Homo sapiens: one gene and its partners. The protein of the gene in region 1 purifies or fractionates together with the protein of each later gene. This does not show direct contact. Each region holds a gene or a part of one and is shown in the gene's direction. Other genes may lie near its edges.

Evidence for each region. Proteins that work in one complex are often made in the same cells at the same time.
Region 2: the proteins of STYXL1 (region 1) and UMPS purify together in Homo sapiens (affinity purification with mass spectrometry, with the first as the bait; one large-scale study listed by BioGRID). This does not show direct contact.
Region 3: the proteins of STYXL1 (region 1) and DDX19A purify together in Homo sapiens (affinity purification with mass spectrometry, with the first as the bait; one large-scale study listed by BioGRID). This does not show direct contact.
Region 4: the proteins of STYXL1 (region 1) and PGM3 purify together in Homo sapiens (affinity purification with mass spectrometry, with the first as the bait; one large-scale study listed by BioGRID). This does not show direct contact.

The regions. Positions count from the first base shown.
Region 1 is NC_000007.14:75,998,479-76,003,814, reverse strand, and holds part of STYXL1 (serine/threonine/tyrosine-interacting-like protein 1), read left to right. Parts: coding exon 1-57; intron 58-2,812; coding exon 2,813-2,925; intron 2,926-5,336.
Region 2 is NC_000003.12:124,740,451-124,744,886, forward strand, and holds part of UMPS (uridine 5'-monophosphate synthase), read left to right. Parts: intron 1-1,701; coding exon 1,702-1,816; intron 1,817-3,464; coding exon 3,465-3,634; 3' UTR 3,635-4,436. UniProt on the Homo sapiens protein: Bifunctional enzyme catalyzing the last two steps of de novo pyrimidine biosynthesis, orotate phosphoribosyltransferase (OPRT), which converts orotate to orotidine-5'-monophosphate (OMP), and orotidine-5'-monophosphate decarboxylase (ODC), the terminal enzymatic reaction that decarboxylates OMP to uridine monophosphate (UMP).
Region 3 is NC_000016.10:70,349,902-70,354,337, forward strand, and holds part of DDX19A (ATP-dependent RNA helicase DDX19A), read left to right. Parts: intron 1-655; coding exon 656-704; intron 705-4,436. UniProt on the Homo sapiens protein: ATP-dependent RNA helicase involved in mRNA export from the nucleus.
Region 4 is NC_000006.12:83,178,831-83,183,266, reverse strand, and holds part of PGM3 (phosphoacetylglucosamine mutase), read left to right. Parts: intron 1-288; coding exon 289-422; intron 423-1,335; coding exon 1,336-1,531; intron 1,532-3,299; coding exon 3,300-3,457; intron 3,458-4,436. UniProt on the Homo sapiens protein: Catalyzes the conversion of GlcNAc-6-P into GlcNAc-1-P during the synthesis of uridine diphosphate/UDP-GlcNAc, a sugar nucleotide critical to multiple glycosylation pathways including protein N- and O-glycosylation.

The DNA.
Region 1 (5,336 bases):
AAGATTCCCCGGAAGCCCAGATTCTTCCCTTCTTACGCCACATGTGTCACTTCATTGGTAAGGAGCGTTCCTTGGCCGGGTAGCAACTGGCCTGTGTCTGGGAAGCAGAGGGGCAGTGGAGCCTCCTTCACAGGCTTATTCTGGACCGTGATTTCCCCATGCTCTAGAGAGAAAGGGCCCAGCTCGGCATATGCTCCATCTGGGTGGGACAAGCTCCAGGACACGTCCAACTTCTGGGGAGCCCTCAGTGAAACGAGCAACCGTGGTGTTTACCTCGGGGGCAGTGGGGCCCAAGGCTCTGGCCCTGGCTAGATGGCTGTGCCCTTCTGGGCTTGTTGTAAAATGAGAGTGATGGCTACCCACAAGTGCACATGCTCATGGAGGCTCTGGGCTGAGCTCTGGGGACCAGTAGTAAATCTATCTCTCTCCATCCCCGCCTTCATCCTTGGTCTGTGGGATGTCGGTGGAATGGAAGGAAGACTACAAAGCTCTTTCAGTTCTGACTTCCAAGATTTTCTTTGTTTTTGTTTGTTGGTTGGTTGGTGGAGTTGGGGTCTTGCTATGTTGCCTAGGCAGGTCTTGAACTCCTGGCCTCAAGCGATCTTCCTACCTCAGCCTCTCAAGGTGCTGGGATTATAGGCATGAGCCACCACACCCAAGTGATGCCCACCAGTTACTTAACTCATCAAGAGTGGATTTTTTACTCATTCCTGGGGCTCCAGATTGCCAGAGGAGAGTAAGATCTGTAGAGAGAGCAGGGCTGAGTCAGGTCAGAGTCCCCACCCCATGCCTGCCTGTCTGGCACCAACAGCTCCTGGCCTGAGCCACTGTACCAGGGGCTGGAGCATGGCATTTTGGCCCAACCATCCCTTATTTTAAATTTTATTTTTCGAGACGGGGTCTGGCTTGTTCACCCAGGCTGGAGTGTAGTGGCACAATCTTGGCTCACTGCAATCTCTACTTCCTGGGCTCAAGCAATCCTCCTACCTCAGCCTCCCAAGTAGCTGGGACTACAGGCATGCACCACCACGTCCAACTAATTTTTGCATTTTTAGTAAAGATGGGGTTTTGCCATGTTGCCCAAACTGGTCTTGAACTCCTGAGCTCAAGCAATCCACCCACCTCAGCCTCCCAAAGTACTGGGATTACAGGCGTGAGCCACCACACCCAGCCCCAACCATCCTTTATTTGCCCAGTAGATGTCAAATGTTGCTCAACCAGGGCCTGAGGCTGAGACTTCCCATGTGTCCCACCTCGAGATGGCAGAGCCTTGTGGCCCAAGGAGGGACCCCATCTAGCCTGCCTCCCTGGGTAGCACTGAGCCAGTCAATAAATTAAACTGCATGCTCAGTTCCTTTATTCAGATGGTGAGGAAGGTGGCCATCGTCATCTCTGCGTCCTTCTTCAGCCCTGGCAGTCTGTGATTTTGCACTTGGTAGGCTTATCTTCAGTTCCTGAGGGTTGCCAGACCAGCCTCGGGTGCCAGCTTAGATTTCCTCTCCCTGGGCAGGACTCACAGCTTCAGGGGTGCTGTGATTAGAGCTGATATTTCTGTGCCAGGCACTGGGCTCAGCACAGAACAAAACCAAACTGTATGAAGTAGGTAGTATACTGTGATCCCGTTTTCCAGATGAGGACACCGTGGCCTCAAGTAACTTACCCTCCAGCCCGGGCAACATTGTGAGACCCCATCTGTACAAAAAAGTTAGCTGGATATGGTGGCACATGCCTGTGGTCCCAGCTACTCAGAAGGCTAAGGCGGAGGGTTACTTGAGCCCAGGAGTTCAAGGTTGCAGTGAGCTGTGATTACACCACTGCGTTCCAGCCTGGGCAACAGAGCAAGACCCAGTCTCTAAAATAAAATAAATAAAAATAGGCTGGGCACAGTGGTTCTTACCTGTCATTCCAGTACTTTGAGAAGCCAAGGTGGGCAGATCACCCGAGGTCAGGAGTTCAAGACCAGCCTGAACAACATAGTGAGACTGCATGTCTATATTGAAAAAAAAAAAAAAAAAAAAAAAATCAGGCGCAGTGGCTCATGCCTATAATCCCAGCACTTTGGGAGGCCAAGGCAGGCAGATCACCTGAGGTCTGGAGTTGGAGACCAGCCTGGCCAACATGGTGAAACCCCATCTCTATTAAAAATACAAAAAATTAGCTGGGCGTGGTGGCAGGTGCTTGTAATCCCAGGTACTCGGGAGGTTAAGCCAGGAGAATCACTTGAACCCAGGAGGCAGAGGTTGCAGTGAACTGAGATTGTGCCACTGCACTCCAGCCTGGGCAACAAGAGTGAAACTCTGTCTCAACAAAGAAAGAAGGAAAGGAGAGAGAGGAGTAGAGAGGAGAAGAAAGGGGAAAGAAGAGAGGAGATGGGGGAAGGAAAGGAAAGGAAGTAACTTGCCCAAGCCCCACGGCCAGTGAGTGGCAGTCAGGATTGGCACTCAGGCTACACTGGCTCTGTCAGCTCCTGACTGTTTTTGGGATGACGATGGTCCTGTCCGCCCCATACTGGGAGGCCAGTTGGTAGCAGAGCTTCCTGGGCTAGAAACCTGGAGTTCAGGAGAAGGTCTTTGCCTGGTGATGCTGGTTGCCCAGGCATGATTCTCTGGAACTTCCAGCCAGGTCTGAGGGATGCCCACTTGCTAGACAATGAAATGGGCTCCCAGAGAAATCATGGGACTTGCCGAGGTCACGTGGGCTGGTTTTGAACTCATGCTTGGACCACGGGCCCATGGAGGCCAGTGTCTGACAGCAACCCAGGCCCACAGGGAGGAGGGCCAGGCATGACCCAACCCCCCACTTCTTTTTGCAGAAATTCACCATCACCTTGGCTCTGTCATTCTGATCTTTTCCACCCAAGGTATCAGCCGCAGTTGTGCCGCCATCATAGCCTACCTCATGCATAGTAACGAGCAGACCTTGCAGGTATGCGTTCCCCGGGCCAGGCTCGCACCACGGCCACCCCCTGGGAGGTGAGGTCAGAGCGCAACCTGGGAGGAGTGGGGCCCCAGCACTGCTTTGGGAGGAAGAATCCCAGATAACTCCAAGTCTAGGGTGCTCCCCAGTCCGCGTCACCCAAGGGCAAGGCCCCAGTGTTGCATGCTTGAGGCCTGAGGCTGGATATGCAGGGCTGGCCCAGGGACTCAGGCCAGGTCAGGCTGTCCTGCAGCCCCCACTGCTGTCAGGCCGTCCACCTGTGTTTGTTTGGTGTTGCCCAAGGGAGAACTGCTTGGAGTCCCAGAGCTGCAGCACAGGCGCCCACCCACTCCCGTCTATCTCCCTGTACCTTGGGCGCAGGGTCCAGAGAAGAGAGGGAAGCAGGGACCCATCGCAGCAAACCCAGGCGGAACTCGGAGCTCCTAACTCACAGCACCTTTCTCGAGGGCCTGCCCTGCCTGTCACAGCCTGTTCGTGATCCCCAGAGGGCTTGATAGGACCTACAAAGCCCCAACATTTGCCCAGGGATGTTTTTGGGGGAAGGAGAGGGACAAAGAATAAAACTCGTTGGCCAGTGGCTTCGGTTGTTGCCCCCATGTGCACTTTGGGGGTGAAGTTGTAGGCTAGAAAGTCCTTTTTTTTTTTTTTTTTTTTTTTTTGAGATGGAGTCTTGTTCTGTTGCCCAGGCTGGAGTGCAGTGGTGCAATCTCCACCTCCTGGGTTCAAGCGATTCTTGAACCTCCACTGCACCCTCTGCCTCCTGGGTTCAAGCGATTCTCCTGTCTCTGCCTCCCGCGTAGCTGGGATTACAGGTCCGTGTCACCATGCCCGGCTAATTTTTGTATTTTTAGTAGAGACAGGGTTTCACCATCTTGGCCAGGCGATGTGTGGGGTGGTGGTGGGGGATGGGTGGTTTACGATTCTTCCTCCAGGGCCTGTTCTGACCCAGCGAGGACATAGTAAGCCTTTTGACTGCACAGCTCTGCCCCTCACACCACTTTAAAAAAAATTGTGGTTAAAATATACATAACAGGCCGGGCGCGGTGGCTCACGCCTGTAATCCCAGCATTGTGGGAGGCCGAGGCGGGCAGATCACCTGAGGTCAGGAGTTCAAGACCAGCCTGGCCAACATAGTGAAACCCCCTCTACTAAAAATACAAAAATTAGCTGGGCGTGGTGGTGCGTGCCTGTAATCCCAGCTACTCTGGAGGCTGAGGCAGGAGAATCGCTAGAAGCTGGGAGGCAGAGGCAGCAGTGAGCTGAGATTGCACCATTGTACTCCAGCCTGGGTGACAAGAGCGAAACTCTGTCTCAAAAAAAAATATACACACACACACACACACACACACACACACACACACACACATACACACACACACACACACAACAAAAAAATTACCATCTTAACTATTTTAAAATGTATAGCTTAGGAGCATTAAGTACATTCACATTATTGTACAACTAATCTCCCAAACTTTTCCATCTTGCAAACCTGAAACAGCAACTCTTTACTTTCCCCTCTTCATCGCCCCGTGGGAACCACCATTCTACTTTTTGTCTCTGTGAATTTGACTACTCTAGGTACCTTATATAAGTTCCTTCCTTTTAAGGCTGAATAATATTCCATTATATGTGTGGAATTCACCAATAAACCCATCTAGGCTGGGTGCTTTCTGTTTTGGAAGGTTACTAATTATTGATTCAATTTATTATTGTTATTTTATTTATTTATTTTTTTTTGAGACGGAGTCTCGCTCTGTCACCCAGGCTGGAGTACAGTAGCACAATCTCGACTCACTGCAAGCTCTGCCTCCCGGGCTCATGCCATTCTTCTGCCTCAGCCTCCCGAGTAACTGGGACTACAGGCATCTGCCACCACTCAATTTCTTTAATATATGTAGGCCTATTCAGATTGTCTGTTTCTTCTTGTGTGAGTTTTGGCAGTCTGTGTCTTTCAAGGAATTGATCAATCACATTTGTGGATATGAATATTCTTCTATTATCCTTTTAATGTCTGTGGGATCTGTAGCAATGTCTTCTCTTTCACTTCTGTATTAGTAATTTGTGTCTTCTGTTTAAGTTAGCCTGGCTAGCGGTGTATCGATTTTATTGATCTTTTCAAAGAACCGGCTTTTGGTTTTTTTGATTTTCTCTATTGATTTCCTGTTTTCAATTTCATTCTTTGCATGGCGTATCTAGTTTTCCTAGCACCATTTGTTGAAATGACTGTCCTTTTCCCCCATCGAATGGTCTTGGCATACTATCAAAAATTCCTTGACAGGCCCGGTGCAGTGGCTCACACCTGTAATCCCAGCAGGTTGGGAGGCAGAGGTGGGCAGATCACCTGAGGTCAGGAGTTTGAGACCAGCCTGGCTGACATGGCAAAACCTCGTCTCTGC
Region 2 (4,436 bases), on another chromosome or scaffold:
AACAAACACTTACTAAATCTACCAGGACTTTAAGATAATGTCTTTTTCATCTTACCATGAATTGAGAGAAGATGAGAAGAGCTTCCCAGACATGCAGTTTCTCAGAATCTCCCAAGTCCTACAGAGATGCACATTCCCATGACAGCAGCCCACATGCAGTGGCTTTCTCTTATTCTTGTCAGATATTTTAGAATATAATATTACTTTAAAAAAATTGCCATAGGGGGCTGGGCGCAGTTGCTCACACCTGTAATCCTAGCACTTTGGGAGGCCAAGGCGGGAGGATTGCTTGAGGCCAGGAGTTGGACGTCATAGTGAGATCTCGTCTCTACAAAAAAATGAAAAAGAAAATAACCAGGCATGGTGGTACGTGCCTATAGTCCCAGCTGCTTGGGAGGCTGAGGTGGGAGGATCGCTTGAGCTTGAAGTTCAAGGCTGCAGGGAGCCATGATCATGCCACTTTACCTCAGCCTGGGCAAGAGTAAGAGCCTGTCAAAAAAAATTAAAAATAAAAAGCCCCAAGAAAATCCCCATGATTTTTTTAAAAATGAAATCCCCAAGACAATCCCCATGTGAAGATTCTAGAAGTAAAGGATTTCCATTTTTTCATATTATTTCAGACTATTTGGAGACTTAACTCATATGGCCCTACAGTCAGGTTTTAACCCTATCCCTGAATTGACTATAACTGTCTGATTTCCCAAGTCTCAAAATCACAGGGGCCATGAGTCAGTTTTAATATTTGGCATTCTGGGAGTCTGGGTCTGGCTCAAGGACAAGACATGACTTGTTTGTTGGCAGTAGTACTTGGTGGCAAGAATGAATGTATCAATGTGTGTCTCAGGTCTCGAAGTACCGAGGCTGGAGTGCAGTGGTGGTACTGAGTCTGGTCTCCGGGAAGTATCAAATAAGAAGGGAAGTATGGGAGTCACGTCTCGGGGAAAGTACCTACCGAATCAGAAAGCCAGGCAGACCTTCTAAAGAGACTTTTATGAATGTGAGATAATAGTATAGAAATTGGGGAGACCAGTTGATGTTACAGAAGAGGGAAAGTGGTAGAGGTGAGATTTCTTTAGCTCTTGAAAGCGTAGCTGTTCTTTACATGACAGCTGCCTTTGGATATGGAGTACCCCGTCTGTAGATAGTCAGTAAGCCTTGAATGTGGTTTCATACCATTATAATATGTTCTAGAGTACTCGCCTCAAATCCTTTTTGGAAGTAGGTGGGTCACCAAGCATTATTAGAAATAAGAAATTATGCAGCATCTTGATTTTAGATGCATATAGTATAGGATTTCTGCTTTACGTATGGTTTATTGCGGGAAGGGAAGGGAAAGGGTCATCTCAGAGTCTTAATGAAGCAGATGTGTTTTATTATGGTTTCTATCTAAGATGACCTGTTTCAGATATAGTAACTTTATATATATGGAATGAGAAAAGGCATCTATAATACAGCAAAGTTTCTAACTAGATAATAGAGCATAAGCCAGGCATGGTGACTTACAACTGTAACCCCAGCACTTTGGGAGGCCAAGGTAGGAGGATCCCTTGAGCCCAGGGGTTCAAGACCAGCCAGGGAACATAGGGAGACCTCATGTCTTTTTTTTTTTTTTTTAAGTTTTGAAAAAATAGAGCATATTTTTACTTTTATTCTGTGTGATTAACTGTTTTCTTATAATATGTCCTATTACATTCCATTTAGGTTAGAATGGCTGAGGAGCACTCTGAATTTGTTGTTGGTTTTATTTCTGGCTCCCGAGTAAGCATGAAACCAGAATTTCTTCACTTGACTCCAGGAGTTCAGTTGGAAGCAGGAGGTAAATCTGGTCACTGGTCGTGGCTCTTCCAAAAATGCTTCTTTACCCATGGCAGGCAAAATAAAACTTTGCATATTATTATACACTTGCTTAAGAAAAGCCTTCTTAGTCTAGAACAATAATGAATGAGCCCTTTGGTAACTATGTATCTTTGGACAAGTCAGTTTACTTCTTTTAGTCTAATTGTCTGTAAAATGGGGATGATAACAGTATTGACCTCATAAGGTAATCAAGATGCTTTAATGAGATAACATGTAGAATATTTAACACAATGTCTTGGCACAGAGTAAACACTCTGTACTTATAAGCCCTTATTCGTAAGCCCTAATAATTGTTTGACTAGATATTATAGTTAGGGTCTAGGCTTTTAAGAATACTTAAAGTATCTTGGATTTGGAAGATAATAAGCCATTTAACAGAATGCTTCTGAAACAGCGGAATTTAATAAAAAAGCAAAATTTAAGGATTCGGGTTTATGGATAGTCTGTGTGACCACTTGATGGGGTTCTTGTATATGGTAGTGGTCAGGTTAGACTTGCTCAGCAGTGCCTTGTGGTGATTCTAAGATGTGTGCTAAAATTTTCTTCAATTGTGAGGCCAATCTTTATTGTATTTTTTTGATATTGAACCTTTCTTTGCAACATATGAGTTTTACTTCTTTTTTTAATATATTGTTAAGCTACAGATGATCTAAAATTTGACATTGAGGGGGTGAATATTTAGGGCAACTTGAATTTATGCTTCTGGAAAAAAATTACATGAAAAAATAATGATAAAATAAATAAGGCTGGGTGCGGGGGCTCACGCTCGTAATCCCAGCACTTTGTGAGGCCGAGGTGGGCAGATCACCTGAGGTCAGGAGTTCAAGACCAGCTTGGCCGACATGGTGAAACCCTGTCTCTACTCAAAATACAAAAATTAGCCGGGCGTGGTGGTGCACGCTTTTAATCCCAGCTACTCGGGAGGCTGAGGCAGGAGAATCGCTTGAATCCGGGAGGCGGGGGTTGCAGCGAGCTGAGATTGTGCCATTGCACTCCAGCCTGGGTGACAGAGCAAGACTCTGTCTCAAAAAAATAAATAAATAAATAGGGCGGGGCGCAGTAGCTCATGCCTGTAATCCCAGCACTTTGGGAGGCTGAGGCGGGCGGATCATGAGGTCAGGAGATCGAGACCATCCTGGCTAACACGGTGAAACTCCATCTCTACTAAAAAATACAAAAAATTAGCCAGGCGTGGTGGCAGGCGCCTGTAGTCCCAGCTACTCGGGAGGCTGAGGCAGGAGAATGGCATGAACCTGGGAGGCAGAGCTTGCAGTGAGCCGAGATAGCACCACTGCACTCCAGCCTGGGTGACAGAGCGAGACTCCGTCTCAAAAAAATAAATAAATAAAAATAAATAAATAAATAAATAAATAAAATAAACTTTACCATTGAAAAGGAGTTGGTGATCATCTTTCTCCATTTGACGTCTCTGGCCTACCCAGTGAGTCTCTTCAGCTCCTGTTTTTACGCAGTTGCTGTACAAAAGGGGAACGAAAGTAGGGGCATGTTTTTATTTAAAGCTGGTTAGATACTTTTTCAGAGAAGTCATGTGACAGGTTTTCTGATTTTTGTATTATGTGAAACAACAATTTTTGTGTTTCTTGCAGGAGATAATCTTGGCCAACAGTACAATAGCCCACAAGAAGTTATTGGCAAACGAGGTTCCGATATCATCATTGTAGGTCGTGGCATAATCTCAGCAGCTGATCGTCTGGAAGCAGCAGAGATGTACAGAAAAGCTGCTTGGGAAGCGTATTTGAGTAGACTTGGTGTTTGAGTGCTTCAGATACATTTTTCAGATACAATGTGAAGACATTGAAGATATGTGGTCCTCCTGAAAGTCACTGGCTGGAAATAATCCAATTATTCCTGCTTGGATTCTTCCACAGGGCCTGTGTAAGAATGGGTTCTGGAGTTCTCATGGTCTTTAGGAAATATTGAGTAATTTGTAATCACCGCATTGATACTATAATAAGTTCATTCTTAAGCTTGCTTTTTTTGAGACTGGTGTTTGTTAGACAGCCACAGTCCTGTCTGGGTTAGGGTCTTCCACATTTGAGGATCCTTCCTATCTCTCCATGGGACTAGACTGCTTTGTTATTCTATTTATTTTTTAATTTTTTTCGAGACAGGATCTCACTCTGTTGCCCAGGATGGAGTGCAGTGGTGAGATCACGGCTCATTGCAGCCTCGACCTCCCAGGTGATCCTCCCACCTCAGCTTCCAGATTAGCTGGTGCTATAGGCATGCACCACCACGTCCATCTAAATTTCTTTATTATTTGTAGAGATGAGGTCTTGCCATGTTACCCAGGCTGGTCTCAACTCCTGGGCTCAAGCGATCCTCCTGCCTCAGTCTCTCAAAGTGCTGGGATTACAGGTGTGAGCCACTGTGCCCAGCCTAATTGCAGTAAGACAAAAATTCTAGGGCACCAAGAGGCTAAAGTCAGCACAGCTTTTCTTGTGTCCTGTATTCTCTGTCTAATGTGTTGCCCAAATAATACCTAATTGTTAGCCATTCCCCTCCATCTCTGGCCTAAAAGTGATAGTCCAGGTATCCACATGGGCTGGTTCCCAGAA
Region 3 (4,436 bases), on another chromosome or scaffold:
TTTTTTTTCACCATGTAGACTTGTGTACCTTCACTTAATAAATGATTCATGGTCTTAGGTTATCATGTGGTTCTGCTCTCTAGTGTAGAGATAACCAATGAAAGTGACAGAAGGCTGGGTGCAGTGACTCACACCTGTAATCCCAGTGCTTTGGGAGGCCAAGGTGGGAGGATTGCTTGAGCCCAGGAGTTCGAGTTTGAGTTCAAGTAGGCATGGTGGTCCACACCTGTGTTCCCAGCTACTAGGGAGGCTGAGGTGGGAGGATCGCTAGAACCCAGGAGGTTGAGGCCGCAGTGAGCCATGATCGTGCTGCTGTACTCCAGCCTAGGTGACAGAGTGAGACCTTGTCTCAGAAAATAAATAAATAGAAAGAACTTGAGTTGGGAGATGAGCAGAGGTTGAGGTTTTCTGAAACTTTCCCCCCAACCATTATATTTAGTCCACCCCTCCCCTTGTTTTAAGGCTGTTGAAGATATTTGAAATGATGGTTTCACACAGACTTTCAGCAACTCTACTTTGAGGGAACAAACCGACTCCCTGAATACTGGTGCTGAAAGTTTCACACTAGACTTTTACTAGAAAGTTTTTCTTTTCTTAGGGACCTTCCTTTTATTGGGTCCTTTGCTTAACTCTGTTTTCTTTTATTTCTATTCAGATGACCAATTTGCAGATCAAGGAAGAGAAAGTCAAAGCAGATACCAATGGTGAGTCACTAGTAACTACAAGCTAGAAAAGAGTTCCATGTGGGCCGCTGCTTTGCACTCATAGCTGCATTGTACAAAGAGCTGTCATTTCGTGTAAACTTCAGCTGTTTACAAGCCAGTGAATTAGATTTTGTTACTGAAGGGATATGTCGATTTTCCACATTTTATCCTTTGACTTCTTAAAATTAAGAGTCTCTCTATTGGATTGTACTGCTACTGTTCATTTGATAATATTTTGGCAAATTATTTATTTATTTATTTATTTATTTATTTATTTATTTATTTATTTTGAGACGGAGTCTCGCTCTGTCGCCCAGGCTGGAGTGCAGTGGCACAATCTTGGCTCACTGCAAGCTCTGCCTCCTGGGTTCATAACCATTCTCCTGCCTCAGCCTCCCGAGTAGCTGGGACTACAGGCGCTTGCCACCACGCGCTAGTTTTTTTTTTTTTGTATTTTTAGTAGAGATAGGGTTTCGCCGTGTTAGCCAGGATGGTCTTGATCTCCTGTCCTCGTGATCCACCCACCTCAGCCTCCCAAAGTGCTGGGATTACAGGTGTGAGCCACTGTGCCCGGCCTAAATTTTTTATTTTTTATATTAGATTTTTAAAATTTTATTTGAGACAGGGTCTCACTCTGTCGTGCAGGCTAGAGTGGAGTGGCGTGATCTTGGCTCACTGCAACCTCTGCCACCCAGGCTCAAGAGATCCTCCCACCTCAGCCTCCCAGGTAGCTGAGACTACAGGCATCCACCACCACACCTGGCTAATTTTTTATATTTTTAGTAGAGGCGGGGCTTTGTCATATTGCCCAGGCTGGTCTTGACCTCCTGAGCTCAAGCGATCTGCCTGCCTCAGCCTCCCACAGTGCTGGGATTACAGGCATGAGTCACTGCACTTGGCCTAATTTTATTATTTATTTATTTATTTTTATTTTTTTTTGAGACAGTCTCACTCTGCCACGCAGGCCGGAGTGCAGTGGTGTGATCTCGGCTTACTGCAAGCTCCGCCTCCCAGGTTCACGCCATTCTTGTGCCTCAGCCTCCCAAGTAGCTGGGACTACAGGCGCCCGCCACCATGCCCAGCTAATTTTTTTTTTGTATTTTTAGTAGAGATAGGGTTTCACCGTGTTAGCCAGGATGGTCTCGATGTCCTGACCTCGTGATCCACCCCGCTTGGCCTCCCAAAGTGCTGGGATTACAGGTGTGAGCCACCACGCCCGGCCAATTTTATTTTATTTTTTTAAATAAAATCCAGATCCTGCATGAGGTAAATTTTTTAACTTTTTGAAAAGTGAATCTGGGTTCAAAACTCAGAAAGTATAATAAAGTACAAGGATTAGGGCCCACCCTAGTGACCTCATCTTAACTACAGCTGTAGCAACCCTATTTCAAAATAAGGTCACATTCTGAGGTACTGGTTAGGACTTGAATATATGAGTTTGAGGTCAGCGGGCCACACACAATTCAGCTCATAACACCATCCTATCCCATAAGTAGCCACTGTTCATGGATTTTTAATATTCTTCCAAAGACTTTATGCAAAGCAAATATAAGTGTAGATTCTCATATTCTCTCTCTCAACCAAAACGTGGCGTGATATATACAGTATACTTACTTTTTCACTCAACAGTATCCCTTGGCAAACTTTCCATATCAATACATGCAGTTTCATCCATGTCTTTTTTTTTTTTTTTTTTTGAGGCAGAGTCTTTCTCTGTCACCCAGGCTGGAGTGCAGTGGTGCAATCTTGGCTCACTCCAACCTCCGCCTCCCGGGTTCAAGCGATTCTCCTGCCTCGGCTTCCTGAATAGCTGGGATTACAGGTGTCCGCCATCATGCCCAGCTAATTTTTGTATTTTTAGTGGAGACGGGGTTTCACCATGTTGGCCAGGTTGGTCTTGAACTCCTGACCTGATGATCTGCCCGCCTCGGCCTCCCAAAGTGCTGGGATTACAGGCGTGAGCCACTGTGCCTGGCCCTTCCTTGTGTTTTATAATTATGTGATACTGCATTGTGTCGATCTACCACGATTTTTTTTTTTTTTTTTTTTTGAGATGAAGTTTCACTCGTTGCCCAGGCTGGAGTGCAATGATGTGATCTCGGCTCACCGCAACCTCCACCTCCGGGGTTCAAGCGATTCTCCTGCTTCAGCCTTCCAAGTAGCTGGGATTATAGGCATGTGCCACCACGCCTGGCTAATTTTGTGTTTTTTTAGTAGAGATGGGGTTTCTCCATCTTGGTCAGGCTGGTCTCGAACTCCTGACCTCAGGTGATCCGCCCACCTCAGCCTCCCAAAGTGCTGGGATTACAGGCTTGAGCCACCGCATCTGGCTGATATACCATGATTTTTAAAGCAATCATAGATGTTTGGGTGGTCCCATTCTTTTGCTATTATAAATAATGCTTCATGAAATAACCATGAACTTAGCTCTTTTTACATGTATGCAAGTGTCTGTAGGATAAATTCCCCAAAAATGGATTTGCTAGGTCAAAGGTATATGCATTTGCGATTTTTTCTTTCTTTCTTTTTTTTTTTCTTTGAGATGGATTCTCTGTTGCCCAGGCTGGAGTACAGTGGGGGCTCACTGCCACCTCTGCCTGCCAGGTTCAAGCAATTCTTCTGTCTCTGCATCCCGAGTAGCTGGGATTACAGGTGCCTGCCTTGCATGCCCAGCTAATTTTTTGTATTTAGTAGAGACAGGGTTTCACCGTATTACCCAGACTGCTCTTGAACTTCTGAGCTCAGGCAATCCGCTCGCTTGGCCTCGCAAAGTGCTAGGATTACAGGCACGAGCCACCACGCCTGGCCTTTTTTTAAAATTTTTTTTAAGACGTGATCTTGTAGGTTGGACACAGTGGCTCATGCCTGTAATCCCAGCACTTTGGGAGGCCGAGGCGGGCAGATCATGAGGTCAGCCCTATCAGATTGGCAAATTCTAAAAGTTTGACTATTAATTCTGTGATGAGATTGTAGGGAAACACTCTCATTCTTGCTGATGGAAATATTAATTGGTGGCCGGGCACAGCGGCTCATGCTTGTAATTCCAGCACTTTGGGAGGCTGAGGCGGGTGGATCACCTGAGGTCGGGAGTTTGAGACCAGCCTGGCCAATATGGTGAAACCCTGTCTCTACTAAAAATACAAAAATTGCCCGGGCATGGTGGTGCATGCCTGTAGTCCCAGCTACTCGGGAGGCTGAGGCAGAGGAATCACTTGAACCTGGGGGGCAAAGGTTGCAGTGAGCCGAGATCGTGCCACTGCACTTCATCCTGGGCAACAGAGTGAGACTCTGTCTCAAAAAAAAAAAAAAAAAACACAGGCTCTTGCTCTGTCACCCAGGCTGCAGTGCAGTGGCTCAAACTCCTGGGCTCAAGCTGTTCTCCTGCCTCAGCCTCCTGAATAGCTGGGATTATAGGCTAATTTTTTAAATTTTTAGTAGAGACTAGGTCTTGCTATGTTGCCCAGGCTGACATTTGCAATTTTTGTCAGTATTTTCAAAGTCTTTTCCTTAGGTATTATACCAATTAATATTTCTGGGGTTTTTTTTTTTCTTTTTTTGAGACGGAGCTTTGCTCTTGTTGCCCAGGCTGGAGTGCAATGGCGTAATCTCAGCTCACTGCAACCTCCGCCTCCCAGGTTCAAGCGATTCTCCTGCCTCAGCCTTCCCGAATAGCTGGGATTACAGGCATGCGCCACCACACCCAGCTAATTTTGTATTTTTTAGTAGAGACAG
Region 4 (4,436 bases), on another chromosome or scaffold:
ATGATTCATCTGAATTATGTAGTTTGCAATGTTACTGGAAACAGAACTCAATTATTACTTGTCTGTATTGCTTTATATTTACATTGTTACCTGTTTATATGTAATGATTGGTTTTTTGGCTTCTTATAGTCATTTATATTTCTTTTTAAGATCATTTTTATGTTTTCTAAGATGTCTGAGATGACACAAAAGGATTTGTCACCCTGAAATTCCTACACATGAATGCATTTAAACTTTTTTCTCTTTGTTAAGAAATGCGGTGAATTGCTTTTTGTATTTCTATGACAGATTATGGCTTGTTAACAACACCCCAGCTGCACTACATGGTGTATTGTCGAAACACGGGTGGCCGATATGGAAAGGCAACTATAGAAGGTTACTACCAGAAACTCTCTAAGGCTTTTGTGGAACTCACCAAACAGGTGAAAAGTTTATTGAACATGGTTAAAGTTAAACAAATGAATAAAGTAACATGGTCTACTGAACAAATTATCTTGTTTGTCATGCCTCCTCTTTCCTTTTCCAAAGATGCTGCATATCTCCTTTTTTGTTTTTCTCTAGGGCTACACAAGGTTCTGGTCTATGTATCCTGCTAACTTACATTGGCGTTTACTTGGCAAATTATGTAGTACATTCTGAGATACTTTGGGGAAGCAAACATGGTGGGGGTCTTGACGATGGTATCATAAGTATTCATTCAGATGAATTTGATCTTAGTTAATGTAGGTGCTGTTGGCTTAATACCTGAGGCATGTACTATTGAGATTTTCTTCTAGGTATATTGGCTTGTTAAATGTAGAGAGATTTGAGAAGTATAATTCGTTTGATCAACAAATATTGAGTATATGTCCTTACCAGGCACAATTAACTAAAAGCCCTTGCTCTCATAGAACTTATAATTTGGGGTGAGGATAGCTGGGAGAGGAGACAATTAGAAAAAAAACAAATCTGCCTGATGATGATGTCACATACTATAAAAAGAATGACATGTCATTACTGCCCATTTGTCTGTGTGCTTATTCTTGCATTTGAATGGCTCCCTTGTAATATTACTTTTAAGAGACCCTGTTAATTGAGACTAAATTCTAATAAAGCTCTATGCTATAAGTTGTTCAATCAGCAAAACTATTCTGTTGTTCCAGGTGTTTTTAAATTTTACTTTAGTGTTTTATAATTTTAAAAATTGAAAAATGAACACAATTATAATTGATAAAATTTAAAAATTAAAATGAGTTAACTAAATATTTACATATGCACATATGTATATATGCTTTATATTTCACATTTATTTTTATAACTTGAAATTTTTCTTCCATGTGTCTTTTTCCTTTGTAGGCTTCTTGCAGTGGAGATGAATACAGATCACTTAAGGTTGACTGTGCAAATGGCATAGGGGCCCTGAAGCTAAGGGAAATGGAACACTACTTCTCACAGGGCCTGTCAGTTCAGCTGTTTAATGATGGGTCCAAGGGCAAACTCAATCATTTATGTGGAGCTGACTTTGTGAAAAGTCATCAGAAACCTCCACAGGGTATGTCGTACTAGCACTGCAAAAATTTGTTTTTAATGCTCTTTGAAGCCAATCTCACTTATAAACTAAGGTGGTAAAGTGAGTTAAGAATCTTGCAGCTATTCCTGGCTCTGCCACATTTAGACATTGAGAAGTCTTCCCACTCTCAGAGCCATTGAAACATGGTCTGCTCTCTCTGCCTGTAAATCACACCATTCCTCATAGTCTACAGGAAATCAGGTGGGGAAAGCAAAGTCAGGAAATGGCATTCTAGAGCAGTGGTTCTCAAACTGGCATGTGTCAGAATCACTTTGAGGGCTTGTTAGCACACAGATTCCTGGGCTCCACTTCTGAGTTTCTGGAGGTCTGGCATAGGATTTGCATATGATAGAAATTTGCATTTCTATCAAGTTTGCAGGCTTTGTTCCCAGTGCTTGTCTGGGGATCCCTTTTTGAGAATCACAGATCTACAGGGGAGCATAGTAAGTATTATTAGATACCTTATCTGAATTAAATACACTATGGAAAGCAAATGTAACTCTGCTTATACAGTTGTTAGCAATCAGTGTTTTCCACTCAGTGCAGAATAGGAGGAAGACTTTTCTTCAGATTTTAGTTGTAGTAAGAGGTGTTCTGGATTTATCTGCATTATAGACCCTAAATTATTTGCTTAGGCCAAACCTGACTTGCAGATATGTTTTGTTTGGCTGGCTGCATTTGTGTGTTTGTCTGTGTGCCACTGTTTAAAAATTCCGTGACTTCTCTTATATATTGGAATCTCTAGCATCTCTTTACCAAAATCAGAAAATGTTCACACATGGCATTAGTCCACTACAGTCAGATAGATGCTGCTCCCCTAAAATAGGACATGCATTCTGGAACTCTACAGACTTCATCCAGTTGCCTCATTCATTCATGTTATTATGCTTTACTTAGTAAGCATTTAAAATGTCAGTGTAGTCAACCAATTTGAGCTCCTTTTCATTGAATTGCTTGTTTTGACATTTACTTGACAGTTCAGTTCTGCCACTTATTTATCCATTTCTTAAATACTGAGCTCTTACTCTCTATGCTCTAGGCTTTGGGACTACAGTATGAACAAAACCATAGTCCTTGCTTTCCTGAAGCTTGCATCATGTCCTTTCATCAATCTTATGATCCCATTCCTGACAAAAGCCTTTTACTTCTTAGTTGTCTCATGTTGAATTTGTCACTCTGCTGCTGTCATGGCTAAGGAATAGCCAAATTTTCTAATAAATTTGATGTGACAATTGCTGAGATTTCAGCAACTTTATGTAAATTTCACAGGCCAGTTATCTCTCAAAGTTATAATTCTTTGCTCTTAATTATCAGTGTTTCTTTTTATTGGTGGTATGAACAAATAAAAATCATTTCTGTTAGAATTAAAGCACATACATCATCTAGTGCTGATTATTTTTTCTATGTAAAGGAGATCACGGTCCTAGGTAAATTACATTCAGAAATACATGTAGCTTTCAAAAAACCTTTATGGGACACCTGTCTAGCCAAACCAACCTGCTTATAAAGTGGAATTTTATGGTAGTATTATAGCAAATATCAGCATAGATTTTGAATGCTCCTTTTTTCACTTTGCAGTGAAAGAATTTGACCTGTAAAAACCACTAATAAACTATGTACTATTTAAAGATTATACACTATTTAAGATTAAGACATTGATTTTTAGGTGGATAATTTTAAGAGAAAATTCTAAAACTCTTTATAATAAATTCTTAGACTGAAATGCATGTTAAATTATCCTGTGTGCTAGGAATGGAAATTAAGTCCAATGAAAGATGCTGTTCTTTTGATGGAGATGCAGACAGAATTGTTTATTACTACCATGATGCAGATGGCCACTTTCATCTCATAGATGGAGACAAGATAGCAACGTTAATTAGCAGTTTCCTTAAAGAGCTCCTGGTGGAGGTATGGTGGGGGGATTGGCTACCCTCTAAAACAAGACTTAGTAGTGAAATAGTTCCATATTTTACAATCATTTGTCAGAAGGGCACAATTTATGACAAATTCTTTACATTAGTGGGCAGAAAATTAAAAAAAGAGCAGTGGTAATACCCAGTCATTTGAACATTTGAGGCATTGGCTTTGGAACCTGAAGGTACTCTTTTCCTCCTTATACTGGCTGAGTTTTGTGATTTGAAGCTTTAGGAAGTTTTGCTTCCATCATAATTGAAACTTTGATGACAGTTCTGTGGTCACTCCATAAAAGCCCTAAATTCTAATAGGAAATCTCATCATCTGATATATTAACTGATTATGATAAGCTTAGTAATGTGAGATTTGTTTCATTTTGCTATTTTAGAAATAAATCTCAGGCTAGCTTTAAGTACACAATGTAATTGGAAATTATTATAATCTGGAAACAGCATACTTTAAGAATTTAATAGATTTTTTTTTTTTTTTTTTTTGAGACAGTGTTGCTCTGTTGCCCAGGCTGGAGTGCAGGGGCGTGATCTCGGCTCATTGCAACCTCTGCCTCCCTGGGCTCAAGCAATTCTTCTGCCTCAGCCTCCCAAGTAGCTGGGATTACAGATGCATGCCACCACACCTGGCTAATTTTTGTACTTTTAGTAGAGATGGGGTTTCACCATGTTGGCCAGGCTGGTCTCGAACTTTTGACCTCAGGTGATCCACCCACCTTGGCCTCCCAGAGTGCTGGGATTACAGGCGTGAGCCACCGTGCCTGGCCAGATACTTTTATTTAAAAAATTAAAGAGGTGAAGATCAGGAGATACAGGCTTCTTAAAAGAGGAATTCTCATAGAATTGTTTTAAATAGTGTTCAAATGTATTTTAGGCTTTTTTCCTGGCATACATGTAAATTTTCAGTCAGACATTTTTGGCATAAACTAAGGCACAACTGAACTGGCTGATAATTTTGGTAGCCT